Homo sapiens: one gene and its partners. The protein of the gene in region 3 interacts with the protein of the main gene of each other region in a pairwise test. Each region holds a gene or a part of one and is shown on either strand. Other genes may lie near its edges.

The links.
Region 1: the proteins of RNF24 (region 3) and BNIP3 interact in binary tests that used the Homo sapiens proteins (3 or more experiments, as listed by UniProt).
Region 2: the proteins of RNF24 (region 3) and GOLT1A interact in binary tests that used the Homo sapiens proteins (3 or more experiments, as listed by UniProt).

Annotation. Positions count from the first base shown.
Region 1 is NC_000010.11:131,978,924-131,986,438, forward strand, and holds the start of BNIP3 (BCL2/adenovirus E1B 19 kDa protein-interacting protein 3), read right to left. Parts: upstream 3,001-7,515; 5' UTR 2,884-3,000; coding exon 2,838-2,883; intron 1-2,837. UniProt on the Homo sapiens protein: Apoptosis-inducing protein that can overcome BCL2 suppression. May play a role in repartitioning calcium between the two major intracellular calcium stores in association with BCL2.
Region 2 is NC_000001.11:204,210,989-204,218,235, forward strand, and holds the start of GOLT1A (vesicle transport protein GOT1A), read right to left. Parts: upstream 3,001-7,247; 5' UTR 2,919-3,000; coding exon 2,894-2,918; intron 1-2,893. UniProt on the Homo sapiens protein: May be involved in fusion of ER-derived transport vesicles with the Golgi complex.
Region 3 is NC_000020.11:3,942,559-3,949,581, forward strand, and holds part of RNF24 (RING finger protein 24), read right to left. Parts: intron 5,722-7,023; coding exon 5,679-5,721; intron 2,661-5,678; coding exon 2,619-2,660; intron 1-2,618. UniProt on the Homo sapiens protein: May play a role in TRPCs intracellular trafficking.

The DNA.
Region 1 (7,515 bases), on a different chromosome or scaffold from region 3:
AGTGGGGAGAGAACAAAAGAGACCCGCCTGACAAAAGATTTCAAGTATCAAGTCAGCTGGGTAGGTAAATCAGGTCCCTGGCTTCCAACGGGGCTCGTTTCCCTCCACCTTCCTGTTGCCTCCAGGACCTCTGGCCTCCTCTCCTCCAGGACCCTCCAGGGCCTATTGCACGCAGCCTCAGGCATCTGGGCTCCAGGTATCCCACTGCTGCCTCATGCAGAGACCTTGGCTTCTCCTTAAGTGTTGTTGCCAGCCTTATCTTTCACTCCACCTCTAGAACCTCATTGTGACCATCTATGAAATGCAAGTCTTGGACGAGAATCTCGATGTCTGCAACCCCTTCAGGTCTCAAAGCACACAATGCTACAACTCCACTCCAAAATAAGTAGAAAACATCTTTTCCCCTCATACAACTTTGCCCATGGTGAGTTGCCTCTGACAAGAGAGAGAACCATCTGCCAGTTGCAGACACAGCAGTGGGTGAAGAGGTGAGGGCTTGGATTATTAAACACGGCCCTCCAGAGTAAATGGGCATGCACTTTACTGAACTGATGCCCTCCTGGTGAAGACAGTGGGTCCTTCAAGGAAGTGATGCCCCCGCCACCGTGACACGGTCTCGTCACAGAATCCTACCTCTCCTGCATGTTAGCAGTGACATGTCTAGGAGAAAAGGGCCAAGTTCATGGCTACAGTGAGCTATAATGATTGTGCTACTGCACTCCAGCCTGGGGGAGTAAGACTGGGCTTGTAAAAAAAAGGAAAAGGACAAATACGAGCATCCTGCGAGTCAACAACTTTAGCTAGAATGATCAAGAGATAGAAAGGAACAGAATCAGCCCATTTTGCCATTAACTCTTTAGGAAAAGCAGTTGGCCCCAGAGGGTACACTCAGAGGAGAGAGTGCTTGCTGCTTCCATCCGTGGGTCTGGCTGCAAGGCTCCCATTGTTCTCTGTTCCGAGGTCAACAAGGGGCAGTGAAATCGGACAGGCAGAGGTGAGCGCTGCCTGAGCCACCGCTCCGTCCCGGATTTGCAGGCAGCTGGAGCCCGCGGGACCGGCCAACCCCGCCCACGCCGAGCCCACAGTGGCCCCGTCCTGCCGCGCGGACACTCAGGGCGGCCCAAGGAATCGCCTACATGGGATCCACCCCGCGGGTAACTATCTTTTTATAGAATAAACAAAACAGAAAAACAAAAATCTCGTAACTCCGGCGCTGGCCGCCTTGCACTGCCAATGACTCAGCAGCCTGTGTAAGTTACATATTGGAGAGAGGACCGAGCCCCCCGGAGCCCCCTCCACCTCCCAGCGCCCAGATCCCAGCCGGACAGTGAAACGCACAATGTCAGGAGTAACGCGGCTTCACAACCGGAAAATGGGTGATTTTATGGCAAAGAGTTTATAAAAACATCCCTTGGACTTTATTTTATGACAAAAGATAGGAAAACACCTCTTAATCTATTTCAAAATAGTAATTAGCCAATGTTTAAATTTCAAGAGGAAAAATCCGAATTACAGGATTTTAAAGAATATGGTTTTAGGCCAGGCGCGCCTGGTGGCTCAGGCCTATAATCCCAGCACTTTGGGAGGCCGAGGCGGGAGGATCGCTTGAGCCCAGTTCAGACCAGCCTGGGCAACACAGTGAGACCCCGTCTCTTAAAAAAAAAAAAAGGTAAAAAAAAAAAGCTTGTAGTGTTCATATGTATATATATATATTATTCAATATATTACGGTAACTAAGTCCTGCCTAGTAAAATCTTTTTTTTTGTAATAAAATTAGCAACTCACTAAATTTATGTGAATATATGGTTTTAAAAACTCTCAATGAAGATTAAAAGTTCACTGTCAGAGGTTTCAGCAGTCCTTTCCCAAGCTTATTTACATGCTAATTTTGCTTAGTAAACTCTGGCTTCAAAGAACACAAAGGTCAGCTGCCACCAGGTCCCTCCTCCGAGGCTTTGGCCCTAGGGACCCTGGGAAGGCGGCTTCAGTGCCCGCTTCCCTGAGCAAAGGCTCGTCTGGACTCTGACGCGGACCCACCGGGTGGGGTGGGTCTCCACGCCACCCGGCTGTGCGTGGGGCAAGTCCTGCACCCCGGGCCTGCGTTTCCCGCTGCGTGAACGGATGGTCTTGCGAATCTAGCCAAGGGCACACAGCGAGCCTCTACTCGGGCATTAGGCAGGCTGTAACGACTGAGTGCTGCACGGGCAGCGTCCTTTTGCTTGTGTTTTCTTAACCCGTAAGTCATTTAAAGCTTTGTTTTGGAACGACCCTCTAGTGAAATTGGAACATGCCCATTTAATGCCATATTTTAAAAACGCTGTAACCCCCTCCCATCTCCGCGTTCACCCTTGAGGAAATCCTAACAGTCACCATGGATATAAACATTAATAACAAAATTAAAGCTCATAACAGGCCACTTGCCACGCCTTGGTGTTTGGTCATTAAAACCAATACTGGTCTGAACTACAGACCGCGGAGGGCAACGTGGACTTTGAGGCTGTTCGGTCCAACTGCGAGACGCAGATTCACCTCCAGGTGGAATTCTAGCTCGCGCGGAGCTGGAGAATCGGGGCTTTCCCGTGCGGTCCGACCCGGGTCCAAGCCAACCCCCGCCCGAGTGGCGAGGCCGCGAACCCCGGGCAGTACGCGGGGTCCCCACGCCCCGGGCTCCGCATGCCCGCAGGAGGGGTGGGTACGGAAGGGGAGGATGGCGCAGCCTCGCCCGGCCCGCGATGCCCCCTAGGCCTCCCCGGCAACCTCCCCTTGGCGCCCTCTTGGCCTTCCCCAGGCTTCCCCCCCGCGCCCCCTCGGCTCCCGCGCCGCCTCCTCCGCCTCACCCTGCAGGCTCTCCTCCTGCATCCCGGGCGCTCCGTTCTGCGACATGGCGCCAGAGGGCAACTGCGGCGATCGGAGTCCGCGCCGGGCTGCGGGATGTGCTTCAGCTGCGGGCGGTGGGAAAGCGGAGGTCGGAGCGCCGCGGCCCAGCTGCGCTCCCGGACTGAGCGGAGCCCCGCAGCCCGGCCGGAGGAACTCACAGGGCAGGGCGGGGCCGGGCGGATCTGCGGCCGCGTCGCCCATTGGCCGCGACTTGGGGCCTGCGCGTGCGCAGGGGCGTGGGGTGCGTGTGGCACGTGCGGCGCGTGCGCGGGGCGGGTCCTGCGGTGGGCGAGGGGCAGAGGCCTGCGGTGCGCGGGACGCGGGCGGGGAGAGGGGCGGGGCGAGGGGCGCGCAGGCGCGAGGGCGGCAGCGACCGCCTGAGGTGAGCCGGCCCGGGCTGGACGCCGCGGGCCGCGTGACGAGTGGGCTGCGCGGTCGCCGCCGCGGCGGGCGGTGGGCCGGGTTCTCCTTTGAAGGGGCGGTGGGACCGGCGGACTCTCTGGGCACTGGCTACCACGGAGACGCCGCTACGCTTCGGGGCGGGGCCCGTCTTTCCATCCTGCTAGTGGGGAAACTGAGGCGCGGGGCTGGCGGCGTCCGTGCGGGGGGCGTGAGGACGTGCAGGGAAGCGGCCGCTGCGGCTCCGAGACGGCCCGTGGGGTCGGGACCTGCGCCCGGGGCGGGAGCTGCGAGCGGTGGGCCGGAGCTGAGCGTCTCGGGACGGGACCGCGTCCCCGGGTCTTTGCCCGCCCCGCCGGGGCGCCCCTGCGTGAACAGCGGGGCCCGTTGTGTCCGGGGCGTCCGCCCGCAGGAAGAAGCGGAGGCTCGAGCAGAGTCGAAAGAGTCTGCCCGAGGGAGGCGCGGACCCCAGGGGCCCGGGAGAGGCGCGCCGTCCGCCTCTGCGGCAAGGGGCCTCCGGGGTGCAAACGCGGTGTGGGGCGGGCGTCCCCGGGGTGGGACGCCCCGTCCACGGGGCGGAGTGGCGCTTGGTCGGGCCGGGTGGGTGCCCGGCTTCCGTGGGAGCCAGCCTGGCGTGGGGGCCTCGCAGCCTCGGGACTGGGAGGCACTTTTCAGAGGAAAGTCGCTTTCTCATTTCCCGCTTTTGATCAAAAGTCTTTCTTCTTGAAAGCATTGTTGATCCAAATCCAAGTGTCAAGGTGCGCCCCAGAAACGCTGCTTCCCAGACAGTCGTGTCTGGTCTTGCGGGAAAGGAGGAGGCGTCCCGCCAAGGAACCAGGCGCTCAGAAGCTGAACCGGGGTCACAGAGCCGCGAAGCCAGACCTCAGTCGCTGCGTGCATTTCATCCCTGCTCTTGCCTGTTGAATCGTCTCTAGTCTTTGGAGTGCCATGATTTTAGTTTTCTCAGGAGTAACAAACATCCAGAGGCCAGTGTGGGGCGCATGTCTTTCATCTCAGCACTTTGGGAGGCCGAGGCAGGAGGATCGCTGGAGCCCAGGAGTTGGAGACCAGTCTGGGCAATATGGCGAAACGCTTTCTCTCCCCTAAAAAAATACAAAAAACTTAGCTGGGTATGGTGGCACCTGCTGTGGGAGGATTCCTTGAGCCCAGGAGGTAGGGGCTACAGTGAGCCATGATCAGGCCACTACCCTCCAGCCTGGGCAACAGTGTGAGACCCTGTCTCAAAAAAAAAAAAAAAAAAACCGCCAGAGATACATAGCATAGCATTAATAATTTCGATAGTAGAACTGTAGTGCTGGCCAGGCAGTGGTTCTTGTGTGTAATCCCAGCATTTGGGGAGCCCAAGGCAGGAGGGTCACTTGAGCCTGATAGTTCAAGACCAACCTGGCAACACAGAAAGACTCCATCTCTATTAAAACAAAAATGTTACCAAGTACGGTGCACATAAGGATTACAATGAAAAAGAGAATGTGTATGCCAGAATGAAAAACGGAACCTATTCGAGGGAGTCAACTAAAAGTATTACGAAGAAAATCAAATGGAGAATTGTTCAGAATAGTGTAGCCTAGTGGCTTGTACTTTTTCCCATATGAGTTTCTACTTCGTGGAAAGGGTTTATGCACATCAAGAGGTATTTGCCACCATACATAGACTTGCTTGCTCAGCTAATAATCGAAAGCAATGCAGTCGTCCAGTGCAGCCTTAGCCAGTGAGTCAGTAGCTTTTTGTTGGGCTGTGATGGAGGCAGCAGTTTCATCAGCAATATTTCCTGATAGGCCAGATATGCTCGCAGTCATCCCAAGTAAAAGCAAACAAATACTGACTCTAGGTCCACTGGAATACTAAAGAAGGCACTACATAAATGAGTCACAGTGTCTCACTTCCAGCTGCCGAAAGAGGATGGGGCTTTGGTACTACCAGATGTCTGGGGATCACAGTGTTGATGACGGTTCTCAAATCTTGTACAGAATACCAGCTCTTCCCATTCGGCTTCCTTACAAGAAGGATTGGAGTATTACATGCTGGCGCAAGGAATAATTAGACCCCTTTTAATATAGTCTTTTGTTACGGATCTTATTCCTTCATTTGCTTCAGGCCTTAGAGGATATTGTCTGATATTGGGTAAAGGATTAATCAGGTTTACTTCCACTTTAATGAAAGTGGCTGAATATATTTTACTAATGTCGGTGGAAGACTCTGACCATAAGTGGTCTGACAAAGCTTGCCCTAAGCCATCCGTGTCATTAGTGCCAGTTGAAAAAAAAGTTGTTTGATCTGTATTTTTATAATTTCAGTAATTTCTCATTCTGTAGTTTTTCCATTTGCTCCTTCCATTCTAAACCTAAATCCATTTCTTCCTTTTGGGAGAAGGAAAGCATGCATTGTGACGTTCCAACACAAAATGTCTGCCTAAGAGATGTCTGAGAGGTGGGGGAATGAAGAAAAGAATGAGGGCCCTGGGATTCTAAGGGCTTGGACTTGTATCCAGTGATAGGCTGATGAGATAACCCTACCGTTTGTACAGTTCCATTACTCCAAGGAAGGAGACAACTTAAAGTGGACGAAAAGAGTGGCACCAGTGTCTTTGAGGGCATGTGTCTGTTCTTCATTTATGGCAATGTCCATTTCTCCTAAGGCATTAGTAGAAATAGGAACACCTCCCTTCGATCATCAGAGCAATCCTGTTCATCATGTGGGATCCTGGTTTTTCACTGGTCCTGCTGTTAAATTTTCTACAATCTTTTTTGAAATGGCCAGGCTTTTTACAGTAGAAGCAAACAGCCCTTTTGTCATTAGAAGGAGGCCCTGTCTTTTCTTAAAAGGCCTCATTTGGTTAGTCAGTTCTTGTAGTTGCAAATTCATAATCTTTGAGACCTTAGTTTTTTTCTTCCTTCTGAATTGTCTTAGGAAGTTGATCTGCATAGCTTACTAATTTGTGGGTTTGTATATTCACCCGGTTAAGCTGGTATCTTTTTAACTTAGGTAACCAAACCCTCACTTAAGCCACTGAGGAAAGTAGAATTTATGAGGAGTCATTCTAATGATCTTGGAGGCTAACAGGCATTCCAGAATATTATTTAAAGGTTTTTACAAACCCTTCAAAACATCTAAGCAGAGATTTGTCTGACCTTTGAGTACATTGTTGAGTTCTCCTCCAATCTACATTTTTAGGAAAGAACTGGGGCAAGGCATCAGGAAGAGCCTTGGCTAAAGTCCTTATTCAAAAAAGGGGGGCTTTGGAATTGACCGGGAAGGTGGAGCACCAAAGCCCTACCCATCAGCTCTCACACTTTGGCTTGTTGGGTGAATCTCACTGTCCTCTGGGAATTATGTACTTGTTTTCCCCGCACCCAAGGCCATCTCCCACCTGCAGCCTTTTTTTTTTTTTTTTAGAGACGGAGTCTCACTCTGTCACCCAGGCTGGAGTGCGGTGGTGTGATCTCGGCTCACTACAGCCTCAGCCTCCCAAGTAGCTGGGATTACAGGTGCCCACCACCACACCTGGCTAATTTTTGTATTTTTAGTAGACACAGGGTTTTGCCTTGTTGGCCAGGCTGGTCTCTTAACTCCTGACCTCAAGTGATCCACCCACATCAACCTCCCAAAGTGTTGGGATTGCAGGCATGAGCCACTGTGCCCGGCCTTGGAGCCTCTCTTCAATGCTCTCCAGCAAGCACTGAATAATCCACCTGCTTCGTTTTAGGGAATCTTTGTTTCAGTGAAATAAACCTCTCTGTCCTTAAATTTTGGATTCACTCACCCATTGTCATCGCCTCTGCTGTCTCTGATGCAGATATTTAAGGAAAACGGTTATTTTCCGGCAGCAACAGTGGACAATGAAGCTGTCATGTGTGGCAGGACAGCAGGGAGCAGGCAGTTGGTGAGAACTCAGCTTCTACAGGCAGGAATGGAGTGGGAGAGGCCCTCAGTGGTCCAGGATTTGGGAGGATTCTGTGCCTAGTCCCTGTAAAAGCTGCCAAGTGTGTTCAGAATTATTGGACTAGGTTTGCAGACAGGGAGTCCCCAGAGTTTTGGGGGTTGAGATTTCTTCTTGGTACAGCTCTGGGTAGATAAAGCAGATGTAGGAATCCCAAAAGGAGCTAATTTGGAGAATATCTGTTTGGAAACAGTGGAGAGGTGGGTGCAGCCAGAAGCAGAAGTTACTTTCTGCAGGGTTAACCAACGAAGGCTCGTTCACCAGAAAATGTGCCCTGCTGA
Region 2 (7,247 bases), on a different chromosome or scaffold from region 3:
CCCACCCCTCCCCCATGAAATCCACAGCTAAGTTTTCTTTTCTTCTTCCAAGATACATGTTGAAAGCTGTCCATTTCTCTCCATTCTTAACACCTAATTCCCGGCCACGATCATCTCTTTCCTGGACGTATGCAGCAGCCCCCATTTGGCCTCCTGCTTTATTCCTGCACCCTCCCAGTCCTTCTCCACACGGCGCTCAAAGGTCTTGCAAAACATACAACCTGATCATGTTAGCATACTGCCTAGACTCCTTCACGGCTGCCCACTGAGATTAGACTGCAGCAGAGCCTTCTCATCCACACCACAGCTCACAGGCCCTGCCTGGTGGGGCCCAGGCCTGCCTGCCCACCTCATCTCCTGCCACTGTCCCTATTGCCTGCCATGCTCCAACCACACTGTTCTCCATGGCTTCCATGTGAGCCCTCTTGACTCAGGGCCTTCGTACATGCAGTTTCCTGGTCTGCAACACCCTGCCTCTCACTTGTTACTTGACAATGCATCCTCATCATTCAGGTCTCAGCTGAAATGTCAGTTGCTCAGGGAAAGCTGGTCCACTCTCTTCCCTGACCTAAATCCCTCATTTCTCTCTCTCACAGGACTTGCTTATCATATTTGGTAAGAGTATATTACTTGCAGGCTAATTGGTTTAACAAAGTGTCAGCGTGCCACTGGGTTGAGGACCCAACCCACCTCTCTCTATATTTTTATTCGCCAGGTCCATGATTCTCAACTGGGCTGAGGGGATTGTGGGTGGGGAAGCGGGGTGCGGGATGGAAATTTGTTTCCCAGGGGACATCTGGCAATGTTTGAAGACATTTTTTATTGTCACAACTTGGAGTGGGGGTGCTACTGGCATGTAGTGGATAGAGGCCAGGGATGCTGCTGATATCCTATAATGTACAGGACAGGCCCCCACAACAAAGAATTATCCTGCCCCAAAATGTCAATAGTGGGGAGGTGAGAAACTGTGCCTGCCCTCGGTGATCTCATGGATGCTCATAGTCCTAAAAACCATGTATATGCAGATTATTCCCACATTTCTGTCTCCAGCCCAGGCCTCTACCTGGAACTCCAGACTCACATACCCAACCACCTACCTGACATCTCACCCGGATGTCTAACAGCACAAACAGACTCAACACATCTAAAGCCCAATTCCTGCTTCCCCCCACTCAACCCTTCCCATTGCACAGGCTAAAAAATATACAAGGCATTCTTGACTCCTCTTTCTCTCACACCCTATGTCCAAACCGTCAGCAAATCCTCAACGCTTTCCTCAAGGCAGATCCAGCATGGACCACGCCCCGCTAATCTCCTGCTAACACCTTGGTCTCCACCTTCACACACTCAGGACTGGCTTCCCTGGCTGGGCGCGGTGGCTCACGCCTGTAATCCCAGCACTTTGGGAGGCTCAGGCAGGTGGATCACTTGAGAAGTCAGGAGTTCGAGACCAACCTGGTAAACGTGGAGAAACCCCATCTCTACTAAAAATACAAAAATTAGCCAGGTGTGGTGGTGGGTGCCCGTAACCCCAGCTACTTAGGAGGCTGAGGCAGGAGAATCGCTTGAACCCAGGAGGTGGAGGTTGCAGTGAGCAGAGATCATGCCACTGTACTCCAACCTGAGCGACAGAGTGAGACTCTGTCTCAAAAAAAAAAAAAAAAAAAAAGAACTGGCTTCCCTGCTGCTGCCTTCATACCTCCACAGTCTATTCTCAACCCAGCACCCAGAATGATCTTTTAAACATAGAAATAGAACATATCACACCATAGCACAAAACCAAGGTCATTACCATGGTCTATAAGTCTCCAGTGTCCTGACCCCTCAGTGACATCCCTGACCTAAACTCCTATGATTCTCCCCTCACCTCACTTTGCTCCAGGTATACCCACCTCCTTGTTGTTCTTCAAACACACCAAGTATGCTAATGCCTCAGGGCCTTTGCACTGCCTGTCCCTGCTTCCTGAACATTTCCCCTCCAGAGAGCTGCGTGGCTTTGCTTCCTCACTTCCTATAGATCTCTGAAAAAAGATCTGAATAAAGGCTCACCTTCTCAGTGAGGCTTCCCTGACCACTCTATATAAAATAGCGACCCCTCCTACCTCGAACTCCATAGCCTCCTCTTGTTTTATTTTCATCTGGAGGACTTATCATCTTCTGATATACTATATACTTCTTTCTGTTAATTACCTGTCTCCCCTCTCTAGAATGTAAGCAGGGAGTCAGTTTCATTTAATGTTGGACACTCTATATCCAACACAGTGCTTGGCACACAGCAGAGACAAATCTGTTGAGTGAACAAAAGAATGTTGTCACCAATTCTCAGATGAAAAACCAAGGCTCAGAGGCTTTAAGTAACTCACCCAAATGAAGCCCACAGAGCCACGGTTCTTCCCATGGCCCCAGACTTGTTCCAAGACCTCCTCCCTACCTCTTCCCCCAAAAGAAGGGGAAGGATGTTTAGGAGTGAGGGTATGGTGGTTTGGTCAGGGGAGTGGAGTTTAGTTTTTTATAAGAAGCCCCCAGGGCCACAGGAGACCTTGATGGTGTGGGGAAAGATGTCTGAATGGGCAGAGGCCTCCTGAGTCCACCTTTGTGGCAACCCAGTTCTAAGAACCCGGGATGGGAAAGGGGTCAGTGTGAATGGGGAACCTGCCAGGCCCCCTGGGCACCAGCCTCTAGCTACCTGTGGGCCCTGAGCAACTCCCACCCGCTGGAGGGTAGGGAGCCACACCCCACCCTGCCTGCTGCCCCAGGGTGCCAGCACAGCATCTCCCAGCCCCTGGCTCCAGAGGTCACGCTTGTAGTGACAGAGAGCCCAGCTGGGAGAGAGAGCCAGCCGGCAGGGAGCCTGGCCTGGATAGCCCATTGCAGCCCCGCTCATCCCACTTACTCTGCCATTCGGTGATGGAGATCATGCCGCACTCAGCCTGGGGGGCTTTCCGGGTGGAAGCGGGCAAGTGGAGCGTGGCCCAGAGGACGCAGCTGGTACATGGTCACGGGAAGCTGACCCTTGGTTAAGTTGCGAAATGAGCCTGTGGCAAATCATTAACTCTCCCTCCAGCCCCCGCTCCACCCCCGCACACCACGCAGGTGCTTCTACTCGCCAGCTCCCTCCTCCCGTTTTCCGGTAGGGCAATGCCCCGCCCCTCCACCTGCCGCGCCTGCCCGGGGAAGGCACCGCCCACCTGACCCTTTCCTCGCACCTCGCGGTGTTCTGCGGCTCTCGTCTGCTCCGCGAAACTTAGATTGTATGTGGAAGCATTGGAATCTAGGGGGTGCTCAAGTTTCTTGCTTGGTTTGATAGTGTGGGAAGAGTTGGCATCTGCGCATCCCTTTGGGAATGTACTAAATTCATCTTGAAAGTCAAGCTTTTTGCTCTCTGCTATTGCACATGCTAGGCGCTGGGAGGCGATGAGCGACTGAGCACAAAGCCTGTTGTTGACCTAATGGCAGAGCCAGATCGGGTTAAATCAATGGCAAAAGCGCCATGGGGGAAGTTAGACGTGAAGGTCTTCGACCTCCTTTCCCCAAGCGGCGTCCAAGCTTTGGACTGACTGTGATGTTGAGCTATGGAAGACAAAGCCCTGAATTTGGGGTTGGGGCAGGACTGCACAATTTAGGAGGCCTGGTTCTAGTCTACCCACCAGCTGTGTAGACATGGATTCGTCCTTTGGGCCTGCAAAAAGAGAGGCAGTTAGTTCCTAACATCCTTTTTTCCCATCGCAGAGCAGTGGTTCTGACGTGGCATTGATGCCAGGAGAGCCAACATCCACTTTGCAATGTCTTCTGTGTCCAGAAATGAAGAAATGAATTTCAAAGACTACCTATATACATCATTTAAAAATGCAAATAGGCCTGGCATACAAAATGCATTATGTCTGTAATCCCAGCATTTTGGGAGGCCAAGGCAGGAGGATTGCTTGAGCCCAGGAGTTTGAGACCAGCCTGAGCAACATAGTGAGACCTTGTCTCTACAATAATAAAAATAAAAAATTAGCCGGATGTGGTGGTACCTGCCTGTAGTCCCAGCTACTGGGGAGGCTAAGGTAGGAGGATTGCTTGAGCCCAGAAGGTCGAGGCTGCGATGAGCTGTGATCAAGCCATGCACTCCAGCCTGGGTAGCAGAGCGAGATCCTGTCTCAAAAAAAAACAAACCAAACAACAACAACAAAACCAAGGAAAGCTAACATAATTTTTTAAAAAGAAACAAAAAGATAAATTATAATAAAACATGATGTCTTTCAATATATAAATGTTCAGGCAAGACTTACCAGAAGACATAAATGAAATAGGCAGATTGCTTGCACCCACACATAATATATGTTTGAATTTAAGAGAAATAGAAGATGAGCCATTCTATGCAAAAACAAAAATCACACACATGCAAGAAAATGAAAGAGTAGCAGGAAGTGAACATAGAATAAAAACTGTTAGATAAGGAATAACAGACCAGACGTACTTGCATATGATGAGAGGGAAAGCATCTTAATTGAAATAGGGATAACATAGCAAGGCAAATTAGAGAGCACAAGGTGGAGATAATATAGAAGTATGATGTGCATGCAAAGGAACTCAGTCTTAGGTATGTGTGTATTGTCAAAATAGCTCCCATGGAATGGGGTCGCCATAGAGTACCACAGACACATCAACCTCTGTCTTGAAACATATCAGCGTTGAGGTAAAATTCAGTCTCTGGGATCTTAAAAGGCCTTAGAGATCACATATTTCCAATGGGCAATGGGGGATAGAGGATGGATTGGGAAAAGAAAAGAAGATAAAAGTGGTTTAGAGCAATTGCATGTGGACACCCGGGACAGTGTTGTAAAGACAGGACACAACATTTCCACACATAATTATGACAACATAGCATCCTTGGGCTCCAAAAAAACTAAACATATAAAGGATGGCAATAATATGAAATAAACCCTAAAAACTTTTATTAAGGAAACTCAGTGAGATCTTCTGCATCTCAAGTGTCTCTGATTCCATGTTTGCTTCTCTCACATATCCTCTGTTAAATATTTTCAGTCAATTTCTTCGTTTATTCAGTATCACCTACTGATCAGAACTGTTTTCAATCAAATACATAGTAGCTGAAATCTTATAATCCTTTGTGTAGACAATGCATGGAGTAGATTATTCAATAATTTTAAGACAATGTCTTTATTCCTTTTAAGCTTCTGCTCCATAATAACCATCTCCTAACTTTCTGAGTGTTCATGAAATTTATTTTTAAAAGCTTACAAAACCTTTTGGTATTACTGTCAATTGAAGTATGACCAACTTTTACTGGTAGTGGGTTTAGTTCAGTTGTACATTCGAAAGTAGTACAGGATATGGGACAATTCTTTGTTTTGGAAATCTGTCCTGTGCATTGCAGTCTCGAAATGCCAGCAAGAGTTTTGCACCCTTATGATTGAGACAACCAAATGCCCCTAGGGGCCAGAATCATCCCTGTTGAAATCACTCGTAGGTTAAGAGCTTCATCCTGGCTTCGTGAAGCCTTGGGCATTTTATTTATCCTTTCTGTGCCTCAGCTTCTTGGATAATTATAGTACCTATGACTGACATAGAGGATGAGGATTCATGAGTAAATGCATGTGAAGTGCATAGAACCAGGTACCTGGCACATAGTAAGCACTTAATGAACCACTGTTATTCCTGTTACTGTATAGTTATAATAATTACTATTGTTATTAATGTTATTATTAGTATACTGTTAATATGCTTTATATGAAAGACTTCTACTGTCATCTCAAATTGTGGTGCTAAACCACTCCCGCAGGTGTATAAAATAGCAACTGGGGATGCCCCTTCCTGCCCCCACCCCCAGCCATGGAACCCACCTGTGAGCTCAGGAGAATTAAACGCTCATGATACTGGGCCCTCCGGGCCTGATTCTCTGGGTACTGGAGCTAAGCCCAGAGGCGCTGTCCACAACTCATCCTTCTGGAGAGGGACCTTCATAGGGACAACGCCGGGAAGGCTGGTGCTAGTCCTCGACCCATGGCAGTCTCATGACCCTGCCATGATGAGAAAAGTGTGGGGTAGTGCAGTTACTCCCTGGGCTGGAGGCATAGAAGTGGCAGGGGAGGGACACCTCAGGGATGGCACGGGCCCTGGTGATGTCTTCCAGCAAAGGCTGTAGAGCTAGTAAAGGAGGGGTCCTGGAAAACCTTCTCCCTCTTCCCACATCAGGCCCCTGCAGGTGGCCAGGGAGCCTTTGCAACATCACCACTTCCACTTCCTCACATTTGGAAGTGAATTTGAGTTTTCAAAGTGATTTTCATCCATTTTCTCATTTGTCTTTCTTGAAAGTTCCATAAGATGGTGGTTAATATACCCATTTTCCAGATGAGGGAACTGAGACTCAAGAATTTAATGACTTGTCCAAATCTTCATGCAGCTAGCAAGGAGCATGTTGCTAGGGGCAGGAGTTGAGGATGACATGCCACCTTCTCTCATTGGTCTCAGTAACGAGGTGAGGCTCGGGATGAGGAGGGGGACGTGGCGTGGCCCCAGTTCCCTGGCAGCAGCAGGGTCTGAGGCTTGGCTGCCTGCCTGACCCTGTCGTGCCTGTCTTCAAGAATAAATAAGTGATCATGCAGTTACACAGCTCTGCTCCTTAAAGGACATTCTGCTATTGCATTTTCATTTACATTTCTCAGCTACTACCCCCTTTTTACAAATCCCAACCTGGCTTGATCTGGTAGGGGATGGAGCAGGCACCAGCTGGCATCATCTCTTGAGAGGAGGAGGCAGCCCTTGTCGGTGGATGCAGTGATGCCCGGTGGTACTCTGTGGTCTCACATTCCACCTCCTCCCCAAGCCCTTGCCACTGGCTCTGGCTCAGATGGAGCCTGAAGATAAAGGCTCAGCCCCCCAGAAAGTGACGAGTTCTCCAATATGCATCCCCCTACCCCAGCCTCTGATGCAGGCCCTCCCCCAGAGCCTACATCTGGTCACAACTCTCCCGGGTTCACAAAGGACATCATCCTGGGGATGTGACAAAATCCAAAATAGAGTCGAATCTTAAAAATGACCTCCCCCGTACTAGCCCTTAGAAATGGGAACAGGTGTCCAGAATTCAGCTTCAGCCATGAAAGCCAAGCCGATGCAAGATCAGGAATTAGAGGAAGCTTGCTTTCTCATCTCTCCTTCTCGCTTTTTCTTGAGCCATCCCTCCCTCGGACAACATGCAGAAGCCCCGCTGAGCCTGCCAGTCTCCCGGGCGCACCTCTTCT
Region 3 (7,023 bases):
GCCTCCCAGGTTCATGCCATTCTCCTGCCTCAGCCTCCTGAGTAGCTGGGACTACAGGCACCCACCACCACGCCCGGCTAATTTTTTTGTATTTTTAGTAGAGACGGGGTTTCACCATGTTAGCCAGGATGGTCTCGATCTCCTGACCCTGTGATCCGCCTGCCTCGGCCTCCCAAAGTGCTGGGATTACAGGCGTGAGCCACCGCGCCTGGCCTGGACAAATATTTCAAAGCAAAGGAATTTACCTGGGATGAAGACAGTTTTTTTTTTTTTTTGAGATAGTGTTTCATTCTTGTTGCCCATGCTGGCGTGCAATGGCACGATCTCAGCTCACTGCAACCTCTGCCTCCAGGTTCAAGTGATTCTCCTACCTTAGCCTTCCGAGTAGCTGGGATTACAGGTGTCCATCACCGCGCCTGGCTCATTTTTGTATTTTTGGTAGAGATGGAGTTTCACCATGTTGGCCAGGCTGGTCTTGAACTCCTGACCACAGGTGATCCTCCTGCCTTGGCCTCCCAAAGTGCTGGGATTATAGGTGTGAGCCACCCAGCCCGGCGAGAGACCTTGACAAAAGGGTCAGTTCACCAAGAAGATATTCAATGTGTATACAACTAACAACAGAGCTTCAAATAAATAAATAGACATAATGTATTCACAGGTCAGAAGACTCACCATGGTAAAGGTCAATTCTCTCCAAACACATTTATAGAGTTAATGCAATATAAATCAAAATCCCAGCAGGATTTTTTTTTTTTTTTTGTGGATACAGATGAGCTGATGCTACAATTTACATGGAAGGGTCAAGGAACCAGACTAGCTAAAACAATTTTGGAAAAGAATGAGGTTGGAAGAATCACACTGCCTGATTTTAAGATTTACTATAAAGCTATTAATAATCAAGACAGTGTGGTACTGATGAAGAAACAGGCACACAAATCAAGAGAATATAATGGAGAATCCAGAAATACAGTCACAAAAAATATGGCTATTTGATTTTTGAAAAAGGTGCAAAAGAATTTCAATGAAGAAAGCAACTCACCATAACCAAAGCTGGGGATACTATGGTGAAAAAAATCCAAGACTAGATACAAATGACCAGCGAAACAGGAATTGGTGGGTGTAGTTGGATACTAACTATGATACATACTGATGCAACACACAATGTATTTATTCAGGACAAAGTTTCTAAACTAACAGGTCACACCAGTAAGGAAGACTTCTGTTCTGGATTAATCTGGTAAAAATTTAATCTTTTCATTTACGGTCATCAAAAAGACTCCAAATGGGAAACAGACCACTTTTATTATTTCATGTTAATTTTGGCCATGTGTCAAAATTAACTTCTAGGAAAAGTAAAAAATCAAACAGTGGCCGGCTGCCGTGGCTCACGCTTGTAATCCCAGCACTTTGGGAGGCCGAGGTGGGTGGATTACGTGAGGTCAGGAGTTCAAGACCAGCCTGGCCAACATGGTGAAACCCCGTCTCTACTAAAAATACAAAAATTAGCTGGGTGTGGTGGCGCATGCCTATAATCCTAGCTACTCGACAGGCTGAAGCAGGAGAATCGCTTGAGCCCAGGAGGCGGAGTTTGTAGTGAGCGGAGATTGCACCATTGCACTCCAGCCTGGATGACAGAGTAAGACCCCGTCTCAAAAAAAAAAAAAAAAAAAAATCAAACAGTAATTAATGCTTCAGTTTAATCCAAGGCTAGGTCTAAAATGCCATTAAACAGAAACATATCAATTCTTTGATGAAAAATATGCAGAAAGAGCAAAGGACCAATAGATGATTTCAAAATATTTAACAATAATATGATTATTTTTATTATGATTCAAAAAACCTAACAAATTAACTTTCTTTGAAGAGACTGGCAATTTAGCTTCACCACAGCTAGGCTATATGCGACACTGCTATTACAACACACAGCTTTTCAAGTCCTTGCTTTAAACACCAATTAGAAAACCCAGAAAGGGAGAAGGAAAGGGTGATAAAAAATAAAAATTCTGAAAGTTTGTAGTCAGAGGCAACACAAGAAATAGAATGAAAAAGAATTCTTATAGGCTATGTATCTTAATGTATACAGCAGGATATACACACCCAAGTTTGTACTTAAGTTACAAAGCACCTATGTCCCAACCATGCAACCGAAGAGCTAAACAATCCCAAGGATTCATATCGCTACCTGTGTGTTCTTCCCCTGTTCCGTATGTCTTACCTTCTTCAATCCCTACCCCCATGAGATAACTGCTCTCTTTTTTGTACCATTGGTAAGAAAGAAATATTGGGAACATTTTCAATGGGGAAATTAGTACATACTCACCTTGAGTAGAAAAACTAACGTATCTGTTTCCTATTCATACAGCATGGACGGCAAGCAGCATCCCTACTGCTATGAAATTTTATAATGGTGTCATCACTATTAAAAGTATGAGTTATATTACTCTCGTAAAGCCTTCACACAATTGATTTTTATGTGACCTCACCCTGAAATATTCTATTACCCCAATCAAAATAAGCCTATTTTTTTCAACTACTGAGAATAAAAGTGTTTAAACATACCACAGCATACCACTGCTACTAGAAAATGGCTCAAGAGGATTTACTTATCATCAACTTACCTCATGTAAATTCAATTCTTTTACTTTCTCTTTTAATATAACCTGTAAGACAAAAAAGTATGTTCTTATGCCCATTTAAATCTGTAACTTTAAATATTTCTCATTATATTCTCAAATATTTTTCTTTTGTATATATGGCTCATTTCCCTCATATTCAATATTGAAGGGAATTTCTTTTACAGTTTGAGACAGATCATTTTAGCAACATTTTTTTAACTTGAGCAATGATGCAATATTCTCCTAAAAAAGGAATTTTGGCCGAGCATAGTGGCTCACACCTGTAATCCCAGCACTTTGGGATGCCAAGGCGGGTGGGTCGCCTGAGGTCAGGAGTTTGAGACCAGCCTGGTCAACATAGTGAAACCCTGTCTCTACTAAAAATACAAAAATTAGCTGGATGTGGTGGCGCCTGCCTATAATCCCAGCTACTCGGCAGGCTGAGGCAGGAGATTCACTTGAACCCAGGAGGCGGAAGTTGCAGTGAGCCGAGATCGTGCCATTGCACTCTAGCCTGGGCAACAAGAGCGAAACTCCGTCTCAAAAAAAAAAAAAAAAAGTAAGTCAATCTTAATTTTGAAAGTTTTGACTCCGTGGTGACCAGACAGTAGTTAAAATGAATGCCAAGTGATAAGAAGGAAGTTTACTATTTAAGAAAAAACTCTGAGACTAAATATAGCTTATTAGAGTTATATTTCATCTTAAAGTGAAGAAAATAGGCAAGTAAAATTTGAGGGAAAATCTCTAAATTTTGGTGTCTTACATTCCTGAACTAAAAATGGATTTGAGGGTAAATCCTGTTTTCAGAAATCACACCAGAAGCTACTATAAGGCCTCACAGGGATATACTAAATTTCCTATCCAGTATATTTTAAAGATCAAATTTACTGTATGTCTTGTGACTTGTCTAGTTTTATCAGTCAATTTCACTTAAATGACTGCAAAGGCCAATTTTACTTTCTAGTTAGCCTACATACAAATATCTTGTAAGCTGTCAAGATTATAATACGTGGCCAGGCACGGTAGCTCATGCCTGCAATCCCAGCACTTTGGGAGGCCGAGGTGGGCGGACTGCTTGATCCCAGGAGTTTAAGACCAGCCTAGGCAACATGGCAAAACCCTGTCTCTACAAAAAATACAAAAATTAGCCAGGTGTGGTGGTGCACGCCTGTAATCCCTGCTACTTGGGAGGCTCACCTGAGCCCAGGAGGCAGAGGTTGCAGTGAGCTGAGATTGCACCACTGCACTCCAGCCTGCGTGACAGAAGCGAGACCCTGTCTCAAAACAAAACAAAACAAAACAAAACAGATTATGATAGGAGTCTGGGCAACATGGGGAGACCCCATCTCTACAAAAAGTACAAAAATTAGCCGGGGGTGGTGGTGTGCGCCTGTAGCCCCAGCTATGCATGCCACCACACTCAGCTAAGGTGGGAGGATCACCTGAGCCCAGGGAGGTCAAGGCTGCAGTGAGCTGTGATCATGCCACTGCACTCCAGTCTGGGTGACAGAGACCCCGTCAAAAAAAAAAAAAAAAAAAGATTATGATAGGACTGAGACAAAAAGATTCATTCATTTAGAAAACTAAAATACTCAACTCTGATTTTGGATCCCACATGAGACCTGTAAGAGTGTGGGGTTACCTAAGGACATCAGTATGTCCATCTAGGGAATGTGCCAGTGAGCTCAGATTTCAAACATACATGGACGAAAGATGAACAGAAAGATAAGCAGTCCTGGCTGGGCGCGGTGGCTCACACCTGTAATCCTGGCACTTTGGGAGGCCGAGGTGGGTGGATCACGAGGTCAAGAGATCAAGACCATCCTGGCCAACATGGTGAAATCCTGTCTCTACTAAAAATACAAAAATTAGCTGGGCGTTGTGGCAGATAGATGGCTGTCGTCCCAGCTACTTGGGAGGCTGAGGCAGGAGATCACTTGAACCCGGGAGGCGGAGGTTGCATTGAGCTGAGATCTTGCCATTGCACTCCAGCCTGGCGACAGAGCGAGACTCCGTCTCAAAAACAAACAAAAACAAGATACGCAGTTCTGAAGTGTTACAGTTCCATAACATCAGCGTCAGCAAGGTTAAAGACTCAAATAAGCTGAAGCTCCCCTGTACCCAAGAAGAAAGCTAAGGGTAACAAAAATTAAGAATTTCATGCTTAGAGCCAAAGGAAAATCTAGGCCCCCTGTTTGGAAGAAAAAAATAATTTTACTTGGCCTTTGAGAAAAGATAAGTGTATTAACTTAAAGACAAAATCAGTGAAGGACTAGGTATTGACAGCTATGATCCAAGTTTGCAGACTTCTAGTGGATAATATGAGCTAACATTTAAAGTACAAAAGGGAGTAGATGAGATCACTGTAACACAGCTGGTCGCTCACCTCCGAGGAACTGCTATGTCTTCTAATAAAGAAGGAAGGAAAAATTTCACTTAATGGTATCTCAGAACTCCATTAAGTCGACAGTAACTTTAAGAATTACAAGCTATAGCATTTCTCTTTAGCAATCTGTTGGCTCAAGTTTCCTGTTAAATTATATCATCTGAACTTTCTACAGCTTCAAGTAATGCTTACAAAAGAAGAGAAAAGCTGGGCACAGTGGCTCACGCCTGTAATCCCAGCACTTTGGGAGGCCGAGGCGGGCGGATCACCTGAGGTCCAGAGTTCGAGACCAGCCTGACCAACATGGAGAAACCCCGTCTCTACTAAAAATACAAAATTAGCCAGGCGTGGTGGCGCATGCCTGTAATCCCAGCTACTTGGGAGGCTGAGGCAGGAGAATAGCTTGAACCTGGAAGGCGGAGGTTGCTGTGAGCCGAGATCACGCCATTGCACTCCAGCCTGGGCAACAAGAGCGAAACTCCGTCTCAAAAAAAAAAAAAAGAAGAGAAGAATACTTAAGAAAATGAAGTTGATATATTATACTGCAAATTGGCAGTGAGATGCTAAAATGAACACAAGTAAATTCAGTCCCAGTTTAACGTATGAGTGGAAATCAGAGTTCTCAGTTTTTTGGGGGGAAAAAAAAAATCAAAGCCAATCTGAATTAAATTTCTCACCTGTTTGTAGGCATAAAATTCTTTGTGTGCTTGATGTCTTAGCCTAAAAGACAGAAATTAGTAATGCAATATTGAGATTTCCAACATAGTAACTTGAAGAAAAATAAAAAGTTGCTGATTTTGGTATTAATTTATAACATTTATGGCTCAAATGATATAAATTAGAATCTTTACCCTGAAATACACCCAAATGATGTATCTCTTAACATGCTATGTGAAAGTGCCCAGGGAACCATGAAATGTTACCCAAACGTAAGATGACTCAATTCTTTTTATACCGACAGTCTACTTATTTCAATAATATTTATATTTTTTCTTAATTAGAAAAAATTTAAGTATAACATACATCCAATGAAGTATAAAAACCTTAAGTATACAGCTCAAAATCTTAAAAAATGTACATACCAGGATAACTGTTGCTCATATCAAGACATGGTACATTTCCAGCACACCTGAGCCCTCTAAAATGATCCTTCCTAATCAATATCCATGCCCCAGAGGTAGCACTATCCTGATTTCTAACACTGTAGATTAATTATGCCTGTTTTTGAACTTCATGTAAATGGATCGTTTGGTATATACTCTTTTGTGTTTGGTTTCTTTCAGTCTACAATGCCTTGTGAGATTCTTCCATATTGTTGTAGTAATTGTCTTTCTGACTGACATACAGTATTCCATTGTATGAATATAATACCATTTATTTATCCATTTTACTGCTGATGAATATTTAATTACTTCCTGTTTGAGGCTATTATTAAAGCTGATACACAAATTCTACATGTCTTTTAGTGGACATATATACTCATTTCTGTTAAGTATATACCCGGGAGTAGAACTGCTGGTTCAAAGTACTCACACCGAGGCTGGGCACCGTGGCTCACGCCTGTAATCCTAGCACTTTGGGAGGCCGCGGCAGGCGGATGGCCTGAGGTCAAGAGTTTGAGACCAGCCTGGTCAACAGGGAGAAACCCCGAATCTACTAAAAATACAAAAATTAGCCAGGCATAGTGGCACATGCCTGTAATCCCAGCTACTTGGGAGGCTGAGGCAGGAGAATCACTTGAACCCAGGAGGCGGAGGTTGCAGTGAGCCGAGATCATGCCACTGCACTCCAGCCTGGGTGACATAGTGAGACTTTGTCTTGAAAAAAATAAAAGTACTCACCCTGGCCGGACACAGTGGCTCATGCCTGTAATCCCAGCACTTTGGGAGGCTGAGGCAGGAGGATCGCTTGAGCCCAGGAGTTCGAGACCAGCCTGGGCAATAAGGCAAAACCTCATCTGTACAAAAAATACAATTAGCTGGGCATGGTGGCGTGTGGCCTGTGGTCCCAGCTACTCGGGAG